Linked DNA regions of Homo sapiens: region 1 is linked to region 2. The links come from fine-mapping of genetic effects on gene expression. A gene starts in region 2. The other region holds a variant in brackets. All regions are shown on one strand. Distances are from middle to middle.

What was found. PIP is the estimated chance that this variant, and not a neighbour inherited with it, causes the effect. A credible set is the group of variants that fine-mapping cannot tell apart.
Region 1: its variant is the best candidate, but not a certain one, in a credible set for the expression of PLPP4 in testis (GTEx, PIP 0.86).

The regions. Positions count from the first base shown.
Region 1 is chr10:120,723,806-120,733,340 of GRCh38, reverse strand. The region is part of intron 2 of LINC02930 (long intergenic non-protein coding RNA 2930); the gene reads right to left. Among named protein-coding and RNA genes, the nearest start is that of LINC02930, 120 kb to the right of the region's middle. The variant G/A (reference allele first, on the strand shown) is at 4,457.
Region 2 is chr10:120,452,721-120,461,990 of GRCh38, reverse strand. PLPP4 (phospholipid phosphatase 4) reads right to left here and starts at 4,764. Exons shown (of 7, transcript NM_001030059.3): 1 at 4,630-4,764. The coding sequence starts at 4,685.

The DNA of each region.
Region 1 (9,535 bases), 270 kb before region 2:
ATATATTTATACATATTTATATATATTTATATATATTTTTATATATATTTATATATATGAAGGGAAGTAATAGAATATATATATATATATATACACACATACACACACACACACACACACATATATATATAAAGGGTAGTTTATTAGGAGAGTTGACTCACATGATCACAAGGTGAGATCCCACAATAGGGCATCTGCAAGCTGAGGAGCAAGGAATCCAGACTGAGTCTCAAAACCTCTAACATAGGGAAGCTGATGGTGCAGCCTTCAGTCTGGCTGAAAGCCCGAGAGCCCCTAGCAAATCACTGGTGTAAGTCCAAGAATCCAAAAGCTGAAGAACTTAAGAGTATCCAACATGGAGGAAAGATGAAGGGCAGAAGACACGGCAAATCTCTCTCCTTCCACTTTCTTCTGCCTACTTTATTTTAGCCACGCTGGCAGCTGATTAGATGGTGCCCACTCAGCTTGGGGGTGGGTCTGCCTCTCCCAGTCCACTGACTCAAATGTTAATCTCCTTTGTCAGCACCCTCACAGACACACCCAGGAACAAATACTTTGCATCCTTCAATCCAATCAAGTTGACACTCAATATTAATCATCGTGCTTGTTTTCAAGGCTGATTCATGTACTTGTAGGTTAAAAAAACTGTTGGATTCCACATATATTACAAGCAATAACCAAGTGATTTGGTCATTTTAATTAACAACTGTGTAAAACAAGTAAAAATCATTTTGTAAAATATCAAACATTAATAAATGGCACAATTTATGGCAGTTTGATTTACAAAATTCTCTCAAATATGATATTTCTTTGCTTCTCTGAACACCCATCTTGAATGGGTTAGATTGGGAATCATTTTATAGATGAAATAATAGAAACTTGGAGAAGTCAACTGACTTGAGTTAGTGAAGGCTGATTCAGGACAAGATTTTCTGATTCCAAAGCCACTGTCCATCCTATAACACCATCAAGCTCATTCCCCTCACCTCTATATCATAAACCTGCTGGCTGTTTGACTAGTTTGGCCAGTGGATTGGATGATTTAATCAATTAACGTGTTAGTCATAGACAAAGAAACCTGTTCCTCTCCAAGCTCAGCCATTTACTAGCTGTTTGACATCTGACTTTGAATGAGTCATGGAAATATTGTCCAAGCCTTCAGTTTCCTGAAGTTGGGGTTAAAGAATAAAGTCAATAAAAGAAAATATACTTTTTAACTCTCAGTTGGTTAGAGTTCAGCATCCTCCTCCTTATCATTATTATAACAACAATAACTACCCTTTCTTCTGTTCTGATTGCATACCTATACTGTTCTTAGTACTGGACATTAAGAACTCATTCACTTCCGTAACACCTAAAGTAGGTACTCTCCTTATTCTCATTTTACAGATGCAGAAACTGAGGCATAACAAAGTTAAGCAACTCAATATGGTTAAATATCTAGTCAGTAGATGGGGAAGGATTCAAATTAAGGTAGTTTTGCATCAGAGTCCGTGCATTATTACATAGAAAGCACCTAGCCCAGTGCTTGGCACAGCAAAGCTCAGTAAACATAGTTTTTATTGTTAAATATTGCTAAATGCAAATCCTACCAGTTTATTGGGGGAGGGCCTATACCATTCTCATACTCAATGCAAAGGAGGCATCAAGTTCATCTATCTGGAAAGATGAGAACTGTGGGGATCTCCTGGTGGCTGAGCCCTCATCCAAGTATGCCCAAGCCAAAAGCCACAGTGTACATTTAATGTAATAATTCCTGCCACCATGTGCAAAGCCTTGAAAGCAATTAGTTCATACCCAGCTATTATTAAGAAGTTATTTTTGTAATAAAAATATGTCTTCCTTTAATTTCTACATAAATGCAAGGGTGCCAATACAAGTATAGTTTATTTAAAGATGTTCTTGCAGGAATTTAATTTATCCTTTTGAAGAAGCTGCAGAGGAAAGGTACAGAGATGAGCAAGACAATTTGGAAGTGTCCTGAGCTACAGATAAAGAAAGGGTAGCTTCTTTCTCACTGGAACTCAATATCAAACTCTCAGCTTGATCAAGGACAGAGTACATAAGTCTTTGGCGACCAGTGGCCCTTGGAGGTAATATCCCAGCTACTAGTTTGTATGAGTTAGAGTTATCATAGAGTAAATCTCAGCACACAATAGAATGGGTTACTTTGAAACAGTACAACAGGGACTGCAAACACAGTGCATGCCAGGGTTTTAGAGTGCTTTCGAGTGGGGCTTGTTAAAACTACAGGGTAAAAAACAAATACCCAAGCACAATATTTTCAGAAGCAACAAAGTATAGAAGAAAGAACATGTCAGGAGATCGAGACCATCCTGGCTAACACGGTGAAACCCCGTCTCTACTAAAAATACAAAAATTAGCCGGGCGTGGTGGCGCGCGCCTGTAGTCCCAGCTACACGGGAGGCTGAGGCAGGAGAATGGCGTGAACCCGGGAGGCGGAGCTTGCAGTGAGTCGAGATCGCGCCACTGCACTCCAGCCTGGGCGACAGAGCGAGACTCCCTCTCAAAAAAAAAAAAAAAAAAAAAAAAAAAAAGAAGAAAGAACATTGCACTTGGCACAAAACCTAAGCCTGAGCCCAGCTCTGTCCTTATAGATTGTATCCCATAGACAAGTCACTAACTGGCTTGATCCTCAGATTCTTCTAGACAATGGAAATAACATAAACTATTTCCTACAGTTCCTATTCATTTTGAAAAATCTTGAAACAAAGAACATGAAAGCACTTGGAAAACTATCAAATTTGAACTGCAAGCCATTTTAAATTCATTATTAATAACAAAAAAAGAGAGCCACCTAATATGAATGTCAAAATACATGGAAGAATCAGTACATTAGCAATTATATGAATCGTGCTGTCCTTTAGGCAGGTATAATCTAATTCTCATTATATTTATTGTACCAAATTATTTGAAATTACATTCAAGTTATGCCATGCAAATTATAGTCAGTGATGAATATGTTGAGCAGAAAACTATGTGATTTAATATTTACCATGTAACAGATCTAAATTGGCAAATACCTTAAGGCAGTGATTTAGGCTATTATTAAATAATGATGAAAAATCATTTACTCCCAATGTAGTTCTAGAATAAAAAGACAAACTTCTGAGGTTGGGGGGAATATTGGAGTTTCATAATGGCTTTGGATTAAGGCCTCGTCACTATTGACTGACTTGGTTGAAAACTGCTGGCTTCTTAAAGGTCAAGCATTATTATTCACCAACTTTTATAGTCATTTGTAATATGGGATGATATGCAGAATCAGGATCTCCCTGGATTCTCTTCTGAATACCTAAGGAGTCAGAGTTTATCAAGAGCAGGCGGGTACAGTATATTATTGATTCCTTCTTATGAACTTGCAGAGTTTTTGTAGAAGATCAGCTGCACCCTAGCTGAAATACACATGGATTCTGAAAATAAACATACATATGGGAAAACATAATCCACTGCGGATGAAAGATTTATCAGCCTGCCTCTTGTGACCCATATGGCAGCAAAATTAATGGCTGTTTGGAAGCTATAAATTTAGAAAAACCCTTTGTACATGGGAACTCATGTTTACCCATGCTGTATGTTAAGTAGCCTATGAAACAGCTGAACCATTGAGAAGCATCCTTCCTGAACTCTAATTTGTACACAATGGCCCTATTTACTTGGAAAGCCTCTTTATTTTCTAAGGAACAGAGCATCCAGTGCAAAAACTCTAATAAACAAACAAACAAAAAATAATACTAAGGCCCTACAGGATAAACCAAATTCCACAAGCCAGTTTCTGAGAAAAGTTATAAGGAAAGGGATTTGTATGCCGTGTTGTGGAACTGAAAAGACAGTTTTGTCAAACTTATCTCCCTTTTCAAATAAATTTGATGCAATGGATTTTTTTAATCTTAGGTAAATAATAAGAATCTTAGGTACTATTACGGGAACGATTTTGGAAAAGACCAGTGAGAGCATTTTTTAGATTTGCCCCTCTGCAATAGGGCAAGAGGGTGACAACAGTTAATCTCAGAGGTTCTTCCCTTCTCTGACATCCTATGATCTTATGATTTCCTAATATTTAGGTCTACCTGTCAGGTATACAGCCTCCTAAGCCTATGGGATTTAGGACAAGGATCACAAACTTAAATATCTTAGTGGGCCAGGAATGAATACTCTATCAAATGGCAATTGTGGGGAATGAGGGAATGCATGTCCCTTCTAAAAGGGGTGTTAAGGATTGAATTGTGTCAATTCAAATTTATATGTTGAAGTTCTCATTCCCAATACCTAAGAATGTGGCTTTATTTGAAAATAGGGTTGTTGCACCCCATCAAAAAGTGGGCAAAGGATATGAACAGACACTTCTCAAAAGAAGACATTTATGCAGCCAAAAAAACACATGAAAAAATGCTCCTCATCACTGGCCATCAGAGAAATGCAAATCAAAACCACA[G/A]TGAGATACCATCTCACACCAGTTAGAATGGCGATCATTAAAAAGTCAGGAAACAACAGGTGCTAGAGAGGATGTGGAGAAATAGGAACACTTTTACACTGTTGGTGGGACTGTAAACTAGTTCAACCATTGTGGAAATCAGTGTGGCGATTCCTCAGGGATCTAGAACTAGAAATACCATTTGACCCAGCCATCCCATTACTGGGTATATACCCAAAGGATTATAAATCATGCTGCTGTAAAGACACATGCACACGTATGTTTATTGCGGCACTATTCACAATAGCAAAGACTTGCAACCAACCCAAATGTCCAACAACGATAGACTGGATTAAGAAAATGTGGCACATATACACCATGGAATACTATGCAGCCATAAAAAATGAAGAGTTCATGTCCTTTGCAGGGACATGGATGAAACTGGAAACCATCATTCTCAGCAAACTATCGCAAGGACAAAAAACCAAACACCGCATGTTCTCACTCATAGGTGGGAATTGAACAATGAGAAGATATGGACACAGGAAGGGGAACATCACACACCGGGGACTGTTGTGGGGTGGGGGGAGGGGGGAGGGATAGCATTAGGAGATATACCTAATGCTAAATGACGAGTTAATGGGTGCAGCACACCAACATGGCACATGTATACATATGTAACAAACTTGCACATTGTGCACATGTACCCTAAAACTTAAAGTATAATAATAAAAAATAAAAATAAAAAATAAAAAAATAAAAAAAAAGAAAATAGGGTTGTTGCAAATGTAATTACTTATGATGAGGTCATGGTAGAGGGGGGTGGACTCCTTAGCCAATATGACTGGTGTCCTTATAAAAAGGGGAAATGTAGGCCAGGCAAGGTGGTTCACGCCTCTAATTCCCGCACTTTGGGAGGCCAAAGCAGGCAGATCACTTGAAGTCAGGAGTCCGAGACCAGCCTGGCCAACATGGGGAAACCCTGTCTCTACTAAGAATACAAAAATTAGCCAGGCATGGTGGCACATGCCTACAATCCCACCTACTCAGGAGGTTGAGGCAGAAGAATCACTTGAACCCAGGAGGTGGAGGGTGCAGTGAGCCGAGACTGCACCGATGCACTCCAGCCTGGACAACAGAGTGAGACTCCATCTCAAAAATAAATAAAAAATAAAATAAAAGGGGGAAATGTGGACACAGGCATGCACACAGGGATAATGCCAGGTGAACCATGAATGCAAAGGTTGACGGGATGCAACTACAAGCCAAGGAATTCCAAGGATTGCCAGGAAAGCATCAGAAGCTAGGAGAGAGGCATAGACCAGATTCTCCCTCACAGCCAGCGGGAGGAACCAGCTCTGCCAACATGTTGATCTGGGACTTCTAGCCTCCAGAGCTGAGATGATACATTTCTGTTATTTAAACCACCCAGTTTGTGGTACTTTGCTATGGCAGCCCTAAGACCCAATACAGAGGACAACATCTACTAAGCTTCAACCCAGTATTGCTATGTGAGATATGCTGGCTCACTTCTGCCCGTGTTCTAAGAGAAGGCAGAAATGTAGATTTTGTTCCATATAAAACATCCCAATTTAAACATGCTGGCAACAAACACAGGAAGACTTAACACAATGTAAAGGCAAAGTGTATCTGACCCACAAGTTACTCTGCTTTAAGGATTGCTGAATACACCCCAAATTATCTTGAAATTCGTATCCATGTTTGTTTTGGGTTAAGGCCCAGGAAGGCTTACAATACAGTGTTCATGGGTTATTTGGAGTGCTAACATATGAAATCAACATCATTTTTTTTCTTTAGCTCAAGTTAGTTGGTTAGATTCATCTATTCATTTGCATACTTTTGAGCATGTAAATCCTATTTTCAAAATTAATCTCCTGAAACTCAAAAACTAAAGTGGAGTTTTTTGGCACATGTTTATGTATTAAAGTAACATAATTAGTATGCAATATTTAATGTATAATGTATAATGCATAACATCATTTATTATAAGGGTGATCAATGGAACAAAAAAGATCATTTGATTAATAGAAATATCTGAAATTAGGATTTGTACAAGCCTATCAGAATTTTTATAATTTCTATTCAATTATTTTCTATATTGTGCTTTAGTTTCCTGTTCTGGAAAATCTTTGATATATACAGATTATGCAGTTGTAAAAGACAACAAAAGTTCTAATAAAACTTTACTTATAAGCAATGACGTTTGAATTTAATTAAATTTTCAGATGCCATGAGATATTCTTATAGGCCATACAAGAACAGGTGATGGGCTGAATTTGTCCCACGGTCTGTAATTCTAGGATATACATTAAAAGAATTGTTTAAAGGTGTGTAATATGGAAGCTAAAAAGGGGGAAGATGGAATAATAAAAATTCCCAATTAATCTAAAAGAAAGTGAGAAAGGAGAGAAAAGAGAACATAAAACAGACAGGACAAATAGCATTGAATAAGATGGTAGGGTTAAACCTAAATATATTTTATATAAATGGGTAAATGACCCGATTAAAAGAAAAATACTGTCAGAATAGGAAAGGAGAAAAGCTCAGTAATGGGTAAGCAAATGAAATATAAAAATGTGTGAACAAATAAAATATAAGTTGACGAAAAGAATGAAAATAAAAGATATGCAATTCAAACACTATAAAAAGAAAACTATATTCATATCAGATAAGGCAAACTTTAAGACCAAAAAGCATTACAAATGACAAAAAAGACATTTTGTAATATTATGCTTCAATTCATCAGGAAGCTATAACTATTCACAATTTGCATATACCTAATAGCACAGTCTCACAAAATATAATGCAAAACTTGACAGAGCCACAGAGAAAAAGACAAGCCCACCCTTACAAGAGAGAAATTAATATAACTGTTGATAACAAATAGAACAAGCAGATAAAAATTCAGTAAGAATTTAGAATATTTCAATAACATCTTTGGAAAACAAGATTAATATGCACACATAGAACACTGCATTGAAGAACCACAGAATGCATATTTGTTTTCAAGCACACACAAAATGTTTACCAAAATTGACAATAAGTTGTATCATAAAGCAAATATCTAACAATTTCAAATGATTGCAATCATTGAGTATGTTCTCTGAGTATAATACAATTTAATACAATTAAGCTATAAAACTATAAATTAATTATAAAATACATAACTATAAAAGCTGCATACATTAGAAAATTGAAAAATGTAATTCTAAATAGCCCATGGGTCACAGAAGAAATCACAATAAAAATTATAAAGTATTTTGTATGGTATAGTAATTAAACATGCATATAAAATGTGTAGGATACAGCTAATGGTATGCTTAGAGATTTCATAACCCTTAATACAGACATTAAAAAGATAAAGTTTTAAAATCAAGAATTTAAACATCCATTTCAGCAAGTTATTTTTTAAAACCAAACAATTAAAACTAAAGAAGCATTACATAGAAATATTATAGATACTATATGTATATACTCATGGGTTACATACATGTAGATGTTTCCCTGCTCTGTTAGCTGACAGAGTCTAGAAGCAATGATACCTCAGTAGCAACAAGCATGTTGTATTAGTCCGTTCTCACGTTGCTAATAAAAACACACCAAGACTGGGTAATTTATAAAGGAAAGAGGTTTAATTGACTCCCAGTTCCACATGGCTGGGGAGGCCTCACAATCATGGTGGAAGGTGAATAGGAGCAAGTTACATCTTACAGGGCAGAAAGCAAGAGAGAGCTTGTGCAGGAGACCTCCCCTTTATCAAACCATCAGATCTTGTGAGACTTATTCACTATCACAAGACAGCACGGGAAAAACTGGCCCCATGATTCAGTTACCTCCCACCAGGTCCCTCCCATGACACGTGGGGATTATCACAATTGAAGGTGAGATTTGGGTGGGGATACAGAGCCAAACCCCATATCACATACCTAACTCCAGATCTTGGATTCTTTTTTTTTTTTTTGAAACGAAATCTCGCTCTGTCGCCCAGGCTGGAGTGCAGTGGCGCGATCTCGGCTCACTGCAAGCTCCACCTCCCGGGTTCACGCCATTCTCCTGCCTCAGCCTCCGGAGTAGCTGGGACTACAGGCGCCCGCCATCACGCCCGGCTAATTTTTTGTATTTTTAGTAGAAACGGGGTTTCACCGTGTTAGCCAGGATGGTCTCGATCTCCTGACCTTGTGATCTGCCGGCCTCGACCTCCCAAAGTGCTGAGATTTACAGGCATGAGCCACCGCGCCTGGCCAGATCTTGGATTCTAAAACTATTCTTCAATTAAAGGAACCAGGGCTCCATGGAGAAATGCTGATGGTAGGACTGAGGCAGTAAATAGACGAGATGAGCCTGGAACATCTCTTATCATGCCAAAATGTAGGGAAAAGCTCAAAAACAAACAAAACACCCCACAATTAAGGGGTATGTCAAAGGGACACAGAAGCCAACTGAAAGAGCTCTCAATGGCTAAAGCTAAGAATTTTAGCAAAACTAGCTACATAAATAAGACAGTATTAGATTATAGCCCAAAGTATTACATAAATATTCACAAGTCTATACTGACACAAATAAATGATCGAATTAATAAATAATTGAGGGAGAAGAGAGAAATTTCCCATGAAGAAGAACTCCAAGTAATTTATGTGGTTGCTCCACCTTTGAGAAATAAAACTGCTCAGTCCTTAATTGTGGACGGAATCTAGTGATTTCCTTTCAAAGCACAGAACATGGAAAGGGAGGGAGAAAAACAGTAACCTAAGTAACTCAACTGTTGAGGAACCTGATAAACATTTCTCAGCCAGGCAAACCACATCAACATCTACAGTGAGAAGTCATGTTGATAGATTGAACCCTAATGGCACTTTATCTCTGTGGTCTTCACTTACGCAGAACTTCCAGAGCACCTCAGGAAGAGAGGGCACGGAGACTCATGCTCTTCAATGCCTCAGATCGGAAGTAACACCTGCCATTTCCTGTGAGAGCCCATTGGCTGACACTGGTTCCAAGGTCCCAAACTAACTACATGGGAAGCAGGAAGCACCAAGAAGCTGATGGAGAATCGGGTTTTGGAAGCAATAGTGAATTTTG
Region 2 (9,270 bases):
AAGATGAGTCTGTTTTTGTCGATATTTCAAAAATCTACCTGACATCCAGTGCCCTCAAGCAAGTCACCTGGACCAGGTAAAGCACCAAGTTTCCCTCTGTCTTGCTGGAATTACACCAATCAAAGCGTACCAATGAAGGGAAAAGGAAATGACTATCACAAATGCTTGCACCTAGAAGGTGCCAAATATCCATCAAGTGGATGAACAATGAAAGAGAAATGTTTGGAGGCAAAATTTTCAAAGCCAGTAATTGCATTGGAGACAATAACAAATGGTGGCCCACTGTGTACTTTCCCTACTGGACTGTAAGGTACTGGGGGCCACCTGGCCTTCTCTCCTCTCATCCCCTGTGCCTGGCAAAGGCCTCTTGCATCCTAAGAGCTCAAAGAAGGATGCTGGATTATCTAAGGGGAGGTAAACACCATTACCTGTGCACCCTGGCATCCTAAGCAGCTCCTAGGGGGACCCTGCAGACAGAGAGCCACCAGAAATGACAGGGAGGGATAGGGAGAAGGGCAGATGGAAGGAAGGAAAGAGGAAGATAAGACGCCAAGGAACTCAAGCCTACAAGTGAAACAGACAGACCATCTTTCCCCCCGTCCAGCACATGAGATCGTCATCATCTTTCTAGGGTCCTTTCTGCAATCTTGTAAATACAGAGTGCTTGAACTAACAGATGTCCTGGGAGATGACAGCCAAAAACGGTGGAAGAAAGCAGTGTATTCCTAGTTTCTTACTACTACAATTGATGTTCTCACCGGCAATTTACTCACCACATCGTACTCTTAAAATCTATGCCATGATCAAATCCCATCTTTTAGGAAGTGTGAACCACTGCTGCCATCCCTCCACCTTTGAGGTGTCATCCTAGCATGAGATTTTAGAGCTACAGTGACAGCTTCCCACACATCACTCCAGGCAATGTGTACTTGCTCTTCTGGAGATAAGGAGTCATGGAAGGAATTGCTCACAGGATGTGGTCAGTTTAGCACCAGTCTGGAAGCCTGGGGCTGGATGTCTTCTGTCTCAGAGGCTGACCACTCAGGGACATGGGGTCAGCTGCCTGTTTGAATCAGGGTTATACCTCCTGCTAGCTGAGTGACTTCAGGCAACTTACTCAACCTTTCTAAACCTTGGTTTCTTTGTTTGTAAAGTGGGAATAATGAACAGAATCCAGTGAGATGAGGCTTAAAAGAGAAATCACATGGAATACCTTTTGCATGAAGTTAGCCCTGGACTGACCAAAACTGGCTGCTATTTTTTATGAAGCAAAGTGATTGAGAGTCCAGACCTTGCAGATGGAGCATCTAGATTTAGATCTCAGAGCTGCCCTTGTTAGCCCTGTTACTTGGGAAGTTCCTTAATTTTACTGTGCTTCAGTTTCTTCATCTATGACAAAGAAATATCAATATACCCCCTTCATCAGGCTAAATGGCATACGGGATAGTCTTCATTGGTGCCTGACACACAGTAAGATCTCAGTAAATGATTGCTATTGTACTGGTGATAGTGGTCAAAGTGAGTAGCATGCTTCTAGTAGTGCACCATTGGTCTGCTGGGTGTTAACCAGCCATCTCATTTCTACACTATGTGCTTGCTGAGTAAGGTCTGTTGCTAGCCTTGGCATTTGCAGAAATACTCAAAAGAATCTCTCCTGGAGTCTTGGGTAGCAGCAGGACAGAAGAAGCCCAAAAGTGCTTCTCCTTCCTGCTCTGCCCACAATCCATGAGTAAGAGCAATAGGACCTCAAGGCCTACACACTTCATGGTACTAAACACAGCCTCAAAGCTTCACATTTTACTTTTATTTTTCCTAAACACTGGGTTCCTGTAACCAATTTATCTTCTGTTATGTTAAACTTTATATGCCAGCCTTGATTTGCATTACTCTACTAATTTCCTTCCCAGCGATTTGAAGTCCTTAGGCAGGACTGAGCATCTACGGGTTGGTTGCGGGAGCGGGGGTGCCTGGAGAGCAACCTCTCAGAATTCTGAATGCACAAAACCTCAGCACTGTGCCTAGTCTAGAAACAGAAAAAGGGATCTTTAAGAGTCAGTAAGGAAAAGCTTGCATCCCTACTACCCGTGGGCCCAAAATGCATTTTCTTAGCTCTCACTTGGAATCTTTGAGGAGCATATGGGCTACGGGTAACAGGATCCCTGCTCTCATGCAGAGCAAATGTAGTCAGAGAACAGGCACATCTACAGGTGATGTTTCTCCGGGGGCATAAGTTTGCAAAGAAGCAAGATACCCCCTCTCCCCGCAGATAATTCTTTCATCCTGAGCAATAGGGTAGAAATACCAAGCAAAACTAGCTGCTGAGCTACACTGGCTGAAGCAGGGAAATCGGATTCAGCCTGCCCAGGGGCACTTTCTAAACCCCTGTGCTGCTAAGACCACCATCTTCGTGAGCAGAGGTAGGTACAACCCAATATTGCCATCATTTCCAGTACTGGCAAAAGGAAGAATTAAACTTCCCCCAAAAGTCAGCCTCTGTCAAGGTGCCAGACGCTTATCTGAGAAAACAAAGGGTCATCTGTTTCTGCATGCTCCCAGCCGTCCTCCCAGAAGTCGGTACATGCCTGATACTAACAGCATCTGAACATCCAAGATCTGCCCCCTAGGGAGGCTCGCATCAATACCAAAGCTGGTTTTTGCAGGTAAAAGAGCCACAAGTTGGACACACTGTTAACAACTTGATAAGAAACCTGGGAGTCATCCAAAAATGCTATCAATGTCCATGTGTGACAACAGATCCCCTATTAAGTAACACAAGAGGGAACTTCAGAGAACAGAACATAAACTGCCTGTCCAGCTTTTACATGACACCCTTAGAAAAAGCAAGACGCGCATAAGCAATAATTACCAAGTTTTCAAATTTACTGCATAGACCATTGTATATCTGTAAACATCTCATAAATATTTGGGGGGGATATTGGAAGGGACACCTGAAAACTATAAATATTTTTACATATTGTTGGACCCTTTTTTATCTGAGCACCCCCAGCAGCAGTCAAACCAGATAGTGAGATAGTGTAAGAGCCTATCTCACTTTATCTCAGCATTCTTCCTACATTCACCCAACAAATGTTAAATTCTACTGTGCACTGAAAACTAGTTTATCATTTCTATCACATAATAATTTAATGAGGTTTTAGCCCATCTGCCAATTAGAAACTGTCCCCATCTGATCACACAGCAATCATTAGTTTTAACGTACATTCCAAAGGTAGAAAATAGAGTAGGAGAAGGGAAGAGTGTTTTGTTTTTCCAAATGCATCAAAATCCAACTGAAGTTCTCGTTCCTTCTTCCCAGTGAATAACACCAGTGTTCGGGCAGAAGGCGGGAGAGGGGGGCTTGCTTGCATCTGGGGGAGCTCATGGCCTTTTCTGATGGTGTGAATAAATACTCTGGATGAATTTAATCCCTGCTAAAGAAAAACATGCAAGAAAGGGCATTTCTTTCCATGTGTATCCCCTGGGCTGCCCAGAACAGAAGTCATCTTTGACACAGCACACCTGCCATGGATGACTCCAGATTGAGGCAGAAATTCAAAGAGGGCCTCCTGTTTGGCTCGGGAGGGCTTTTCCAGAAACGAAAACAAAAACAAACAAATAAATAAATGCATGGCAAATCCAAAAAGTTCATGTAACTTTAATACTTAGAATGTGGCAGAAAACATCCATGGGCAGAGAGGGGGAGAGAATTTGGCTCACTGATGGAGGGACCAGTGCAGGTGTGGGTGCCTAGGTGACAGCAGCTCACGGGAGGCTGCGGGGTGGCTCTGAGCTGGTGTTCTGGGCTCAGGTCTGAAAGAGAGATGTGACAGCTCCCTGCAGCTTGGGCCCTGGAAGTCAATGAGCGGTGGGTCCCTGGGCGCACGGAGGAGGCTCAGGCATCTCTGAAAGAACCTGCGCCACCACCCCTTCTTCTTTTCGGGATCGCTGTTCTCAGTGCCAGCCGCTCAAAGCCACCCTGGGCATTTCACGGCTACCCCTGGAGGGCCTCCGCCCCCAAAGCGGACATCGACCGGGCACAGAGCTCCAGGGTGTGTGTATCCCACCCCGGCCTGCAGCCCCTTGACTTCTCAAGCCTCCACAGCAACAGTTTCTCAGTAGGAGAAGCGCCGCAAACGCCCGCTGGGAAAACGCTCGCCAGGACCGCGGGCGCTAAAGCCAGGGACACGGAAGGAGTCTGGCCCTGGGCACAGCGGGGAGGAATCGGAGACGGGGCCAGGGGTAAAGACTTCCAACGTGGGCCTCAAAGATCACACAGAAGGAGAAACTTCCCGAGGGCACGGGCCAGGGTGCGCGTCCCTGTTTAGAGGTGCAGCCCTGGATCCCCCGGGCAGGTGGTGCGGGGCTGGCGACAGGCGCGGGCCCGGTGAGACCCGGGAGCAGGTCTCAGCCTCGGCGCGCGGTGGTCGCTCCGCGCCTAGGGTCCCAGGAAGGAGAGAGGAAGGGTCTCTCTTGGTCCCGTAGGACACGTTGCGGGCACTTGGCGGGGAAGGGACCTCGAACCCAGGCCCCAGTGGGAAGCGGCTGCGCAAACTAAGTTAGGGCACAGAGAGGCTTGGTCGGTTGTTCCCCCGCGTCAGTGCGCCCTGCCCGCGGTGCGCCACTACTTACACGAAGACTCCGAAGAGCAGGGCTCGCACCCCGATCTCAATGGCCAGCTCCCGCATGGTGCGGCCGGAGCAGCTCCCGCGGCGTCAGCTGGTGCTCTCCGCGGCTCCCGCAGCTCGGCCGGCGCCGGCTCGCCAGACCCTGGGAGGCGAGGGAGGCGCGCTCCAGGCCGCGGGCGGGGGCGGAGGCGGGCGCCGGGCGGGGGCAGGCGCCGGGGAGGGCTCAGCCTAAACCTCGCGCCTCGGGCTCCGGGGCTCCGGGAAGCCGCGCCGGCCGCTGGCGATACTGCGGACCCCGCCTCCTAGTGCGGAGCCGGGGCCGCCTCAGGGACTCCCGGATCCCTCTCCCCAGGAGCCGCCTCCGCCTCCTGGGCCCGCGCCGGGCACCCGCGGACCGGGGAGGGGAAGCCCGGGGAAGCCCCACCGCCGCCGCCGCCTCCCTGCGCGCTCCCCGCCTCCCCCGCCAGTGGGCGGCCCCTGGGCTCCGCGCCAGGGCAGCGCGCTCGCTGGGGCTCTGCCCGCGGCCCCTCTGCAGCTCCTGGTCCTGCCTCCGACTCCCGCTGTCCGGGCTCTCGCTCCCTGGCACACGCACGCACGTGGGCATGTAGTGGACGATCGCTCTGGGGATTCTCCAGGGCTCAGGGCAGCCCTGGCCAACCTTGCTCCCGTGTTCGGCCCTCCCTACACCGTTCGAACCTGAAATTCTTTCTTTTTTCTAGGAAGTTCCCCAGAGATCACTCGCGGGCTTCGCTTTGCTCTCAGGAGATGCCAGCCAGGGTCCAGGGCTCCGGCACAGAGAGAGGGCAAAGGCAAGCCTGGCTCCCCGCCATGCCACCAGCGCCAGGTGGCCCCTGGGGACCGAATCCTCTCTCCCCCACCACCTGTCCTCCGCCCCCAGCAGCTTGGGGCTGCTGAACTGTGGAATATGAAAAAGCTCCTGCCACCGTCCCTGGCCTGGCCGGTGTGTGGGAAGTCAGGGTCGCTCGTCGCTGACACAGCATTCAACCAGCCGTCAGCCAGGCAGCAGGTAGAACCCAGAGCCTCATCCTCAGGTTAAGAGCCAAAAGCCCAACCCTCGCAGCCTAGGGGTCACGACCTCCAGCTGGAGCCCAGCAGGAGCTTGGATTTGCTTTTCCCAAACCGGTCAGAATTTTATTTACTTTTCTTAGAATTTTGACTTCTTGGCTTCACTAATTTAAACCAAGCAGACATTTAAAATGCAAAACACACAGTGATTATAACCATTAGGTTGTTCCTGGGGAGCCCAGGCCTCTCTTGGATTTTAGGAGAGACCCAGCCAAAATTGTGTGAGCAGAGGACACGGATTAGAAGGTGGTTCCTGGGACTAAGGAGCTATGGCTCAGTCCTGGATAAAAGGGGGAGCAGGTAGAAAGAACTTAGGAGGAAGCCCTTGGCATCAGCAAAGGGCAAACAGACCCTACCTCCAAAGGAAACACGTGCAGATCAGAGATACCTGAGCCCAGATATCTCAGGGTCTAGAGAGAGAGAGGCAGAGGGAGTAGGAACAACCCAGGCTCTGTGTGGGAGGGACTCCAGCCCTGAGGCACCACAGGCAGGAGCTGTATCTGCATTCCTCATCACTCTATGCCCAGTGCCCGGCACACTGTGGATACCTGGTTGGTACTTAGTAAATGAATAAATATTTATTCATACATATATATATATATATATGGCTATATATATGATATATTCATTCATATATATTATATATGGCTATATATATGATATATATATACACGTATATATCATCAGGCACATGGGGTGTCAGGTGCAGGTAAGGTAGGAAGGTCTTGGAGGGAGGAGGTATGCTTCTGTCTCCTCTGTATCTTGGGCCCAGCAACTACCTTGGACATAACAACTCCCACGGATTGGCAAAGTGCTGTAGGAGAGCCCATAGGCAGCCTAGTGAACACTGATGATCTCGGTCTGAGATTGTCAGGTGGCCATATTCCAGCAGGGCATTCTGACAATAGCCCCTGACATTGGGGCACCACTTACCTATAAGCATCTGCTGAGTTTGAGTACAGCCTGTGCAAAGTTGTGTGCTGGGTGAGACGATTCATAATCTGTCTCTGCCTTCAAGAAGATGGGGAGCTGATAGACCACAAGGAGACATCAGGGAAGTATGCAAAGCAGTATTAATAAGTCACAAACACATGCTTCAGAAATCTGGATCGCTCAGAGGTCAGAAGTTGGAACCACATCATCAGTCTGAGATAGCCTGAGGACACAGCCTCACGGAAAGGAGCTGGCTTTTGGACCAGGCGCGATGGCTCATGTCTGTAATCCCAGCACTTTGGGAGCCCGAGGCAGGAGGATCATGAGGTCAAGAGATCGACACCATCCTGGCCAACAGGGTGAAACCCCATCTCTACTCAAGATACAAAAATTAGCTGGGCATGGTGGCGCATGCCTGTAGTCCTGGCTACTCAGGAGGATGAGGCAGGAGAATCGCTTGAACCCGGGAGGTGGAGGTTGCAGTGAGCCCGAGATCACGCCACTGCACTCCAGCCTGGGCGACAAAGTGAGACTCCATCTGAAAAAAAAAGAAAAAAAAGAAAAGGAAAAAAAAATGAGCTGGCTTTTGTAAGGCAAAGAAAGAAAAAAATAAGGGGGAGAAATTCTTGGTAGGGGCAAGAAAGTAGGTGCAAGGAGCAGAAGGTGGAAGTGGTTTTGGAGGGCAAAAGGAGTTACCCTGTCTGACAGAGCAGAGAAACCACCCGAGGTTAGGTTGGTGGAGGAGACGTAGTCGTGACAATCCTGCCCACCAGGGTCTGTTACCAGGGTCACAGAGAGAATATTCAGTTTATCACTTCGTATTTGTATAGAGATACCCAGAGAGGGAGTCAGAAGGGGCATGTAACTTCACTTCATGGTCATTAAGAGACTCTGAAACACATAGATCGAAAGAAGTGCCCAATAAAACCCCCCATTTTGCTGGAATTTATTCTCCATTATCTCCCCCAAGTGCTCATCCAGTGCAGGGTGCAAATCCTGCCACTGAAAAGGCATTCACCCTTGAGGGAGCATGTACCCTCTTCAGATGGCTCTTTCAAAAGCATTTCCTTACAGGGAATTGCTACACACCACCTTGCAACTTACATCATTGCATCAGTCCTGTCCCACCAGCTACTCGGAACTATCACAGTCAACGCTTCTATGGTGACAAACAACAGATGGCTCAACCTAAACTTATTTAAGAAAAGACAACTGAAAAGTCCAATGGAAGGTCAGCCTTCACACATGACTGAATTCTGAGTGCAAGCAATGTCATCAGTACCTGGTTCTTTCCAACTCTCTGCTCTGTCTGCACTGCATTGACTTCAGTCTCAGGCTCCTGGTAGTTTCAAGATGGCTGCAGGCATTCCAGCTTTACACCCTCTCAAGTTCAAGTCTGACTAGAAAGACCTCTGCCTAGGTCCCAGCACTCCCAGCAAAAGTGTCGTAGAATGTCATTGTTGCTGCCAACCCTGAACCAATCACTGCAGTCAGGGAACCATGATGAATTGATTGTCTCAAGCCTGGTCACATGCTTCATCCCTACCCAAAGCTTCCGAGACTGGGGAGAGGTGACCCTACATATACAGGGCTGATGCTTTGGAGCAGGGAGAATGTTTGATGGGAAAGTAAACAACCAGGGGCCATCCTGTTCCATGCTGCATGGTGGGGTCATCCCCAACCATTCTTGTCCAACCCCACGATCATTAACCAGTAAAAGGGAGTTATTCTGGGTGCTCCATGATAAGGCTGCCCAATTTCTACAACTGTCAATACAGATTTGCAATTTGTTGTAAGTTTGTGTTCTCTGAAGGTGGCTTTAAACAAAGCTATGATGTCATCCTTGATGCTTGTCTTCAGCTGCCCAGTCTCTTCTTTCTCCAGTCCCTTTGGCAACCCTGTCATCTCCTCTAATGATCCCTTTTTCCATTTACCAAAGCCTGTTGTCAAGGGAAAGCTCTAGCCTTATTCATTATATAAACCTGGATCAGGATGTCTCTGGGGGCTCTCTCACACAGAAGGATCTATAATTTAATCCAGATCCTTCTTGAAGGGCAGATAGGCTCTGATACCTCTGAAAAGTACTGCAGATGGCATCTTCAGTGCCCCAAATCACAAAAAGCAGGAAGCAACACCCACCCCCCTACCCCCCACCACCCGCCACCCCACCCCGCCACCTGCCACCCGCCACATTCCTTCCATGTGTTTGGAGGTAGCTGGCTCTCGCAGCTGTTCAGCTATGAGCATATGCCAAGCAGGTAGAGCCCTCCTGAAATGTCATGTTGCTGCACCAGCAGACAAATGAGCTTACAGGGAGTCAAGAAACAGAGCCAGGTTAGATAACATGATCCAGCCACAGCACCTAGGTGCCAGGCTTGGCAGCCCCTGCTGGGTCTTTTTAAGATCCCCATGGAATGTGATGAGTCCTCTGGTGACGGAACCATGGGTCAGAGCTTCAGCAGCCTCAGAAATGCTTTATCATAAGAAAGAGAATAAACATGGCAATCCCCCTACCAAGACATGATGAACAACATAGCTGTAAAGTGCGAGACTGATCTTTGAAAAATCACTTTGAAAAATCTAGACACTCATTGAGTGTAGCTTTCTCCAATGCTTTTGTGGCTGC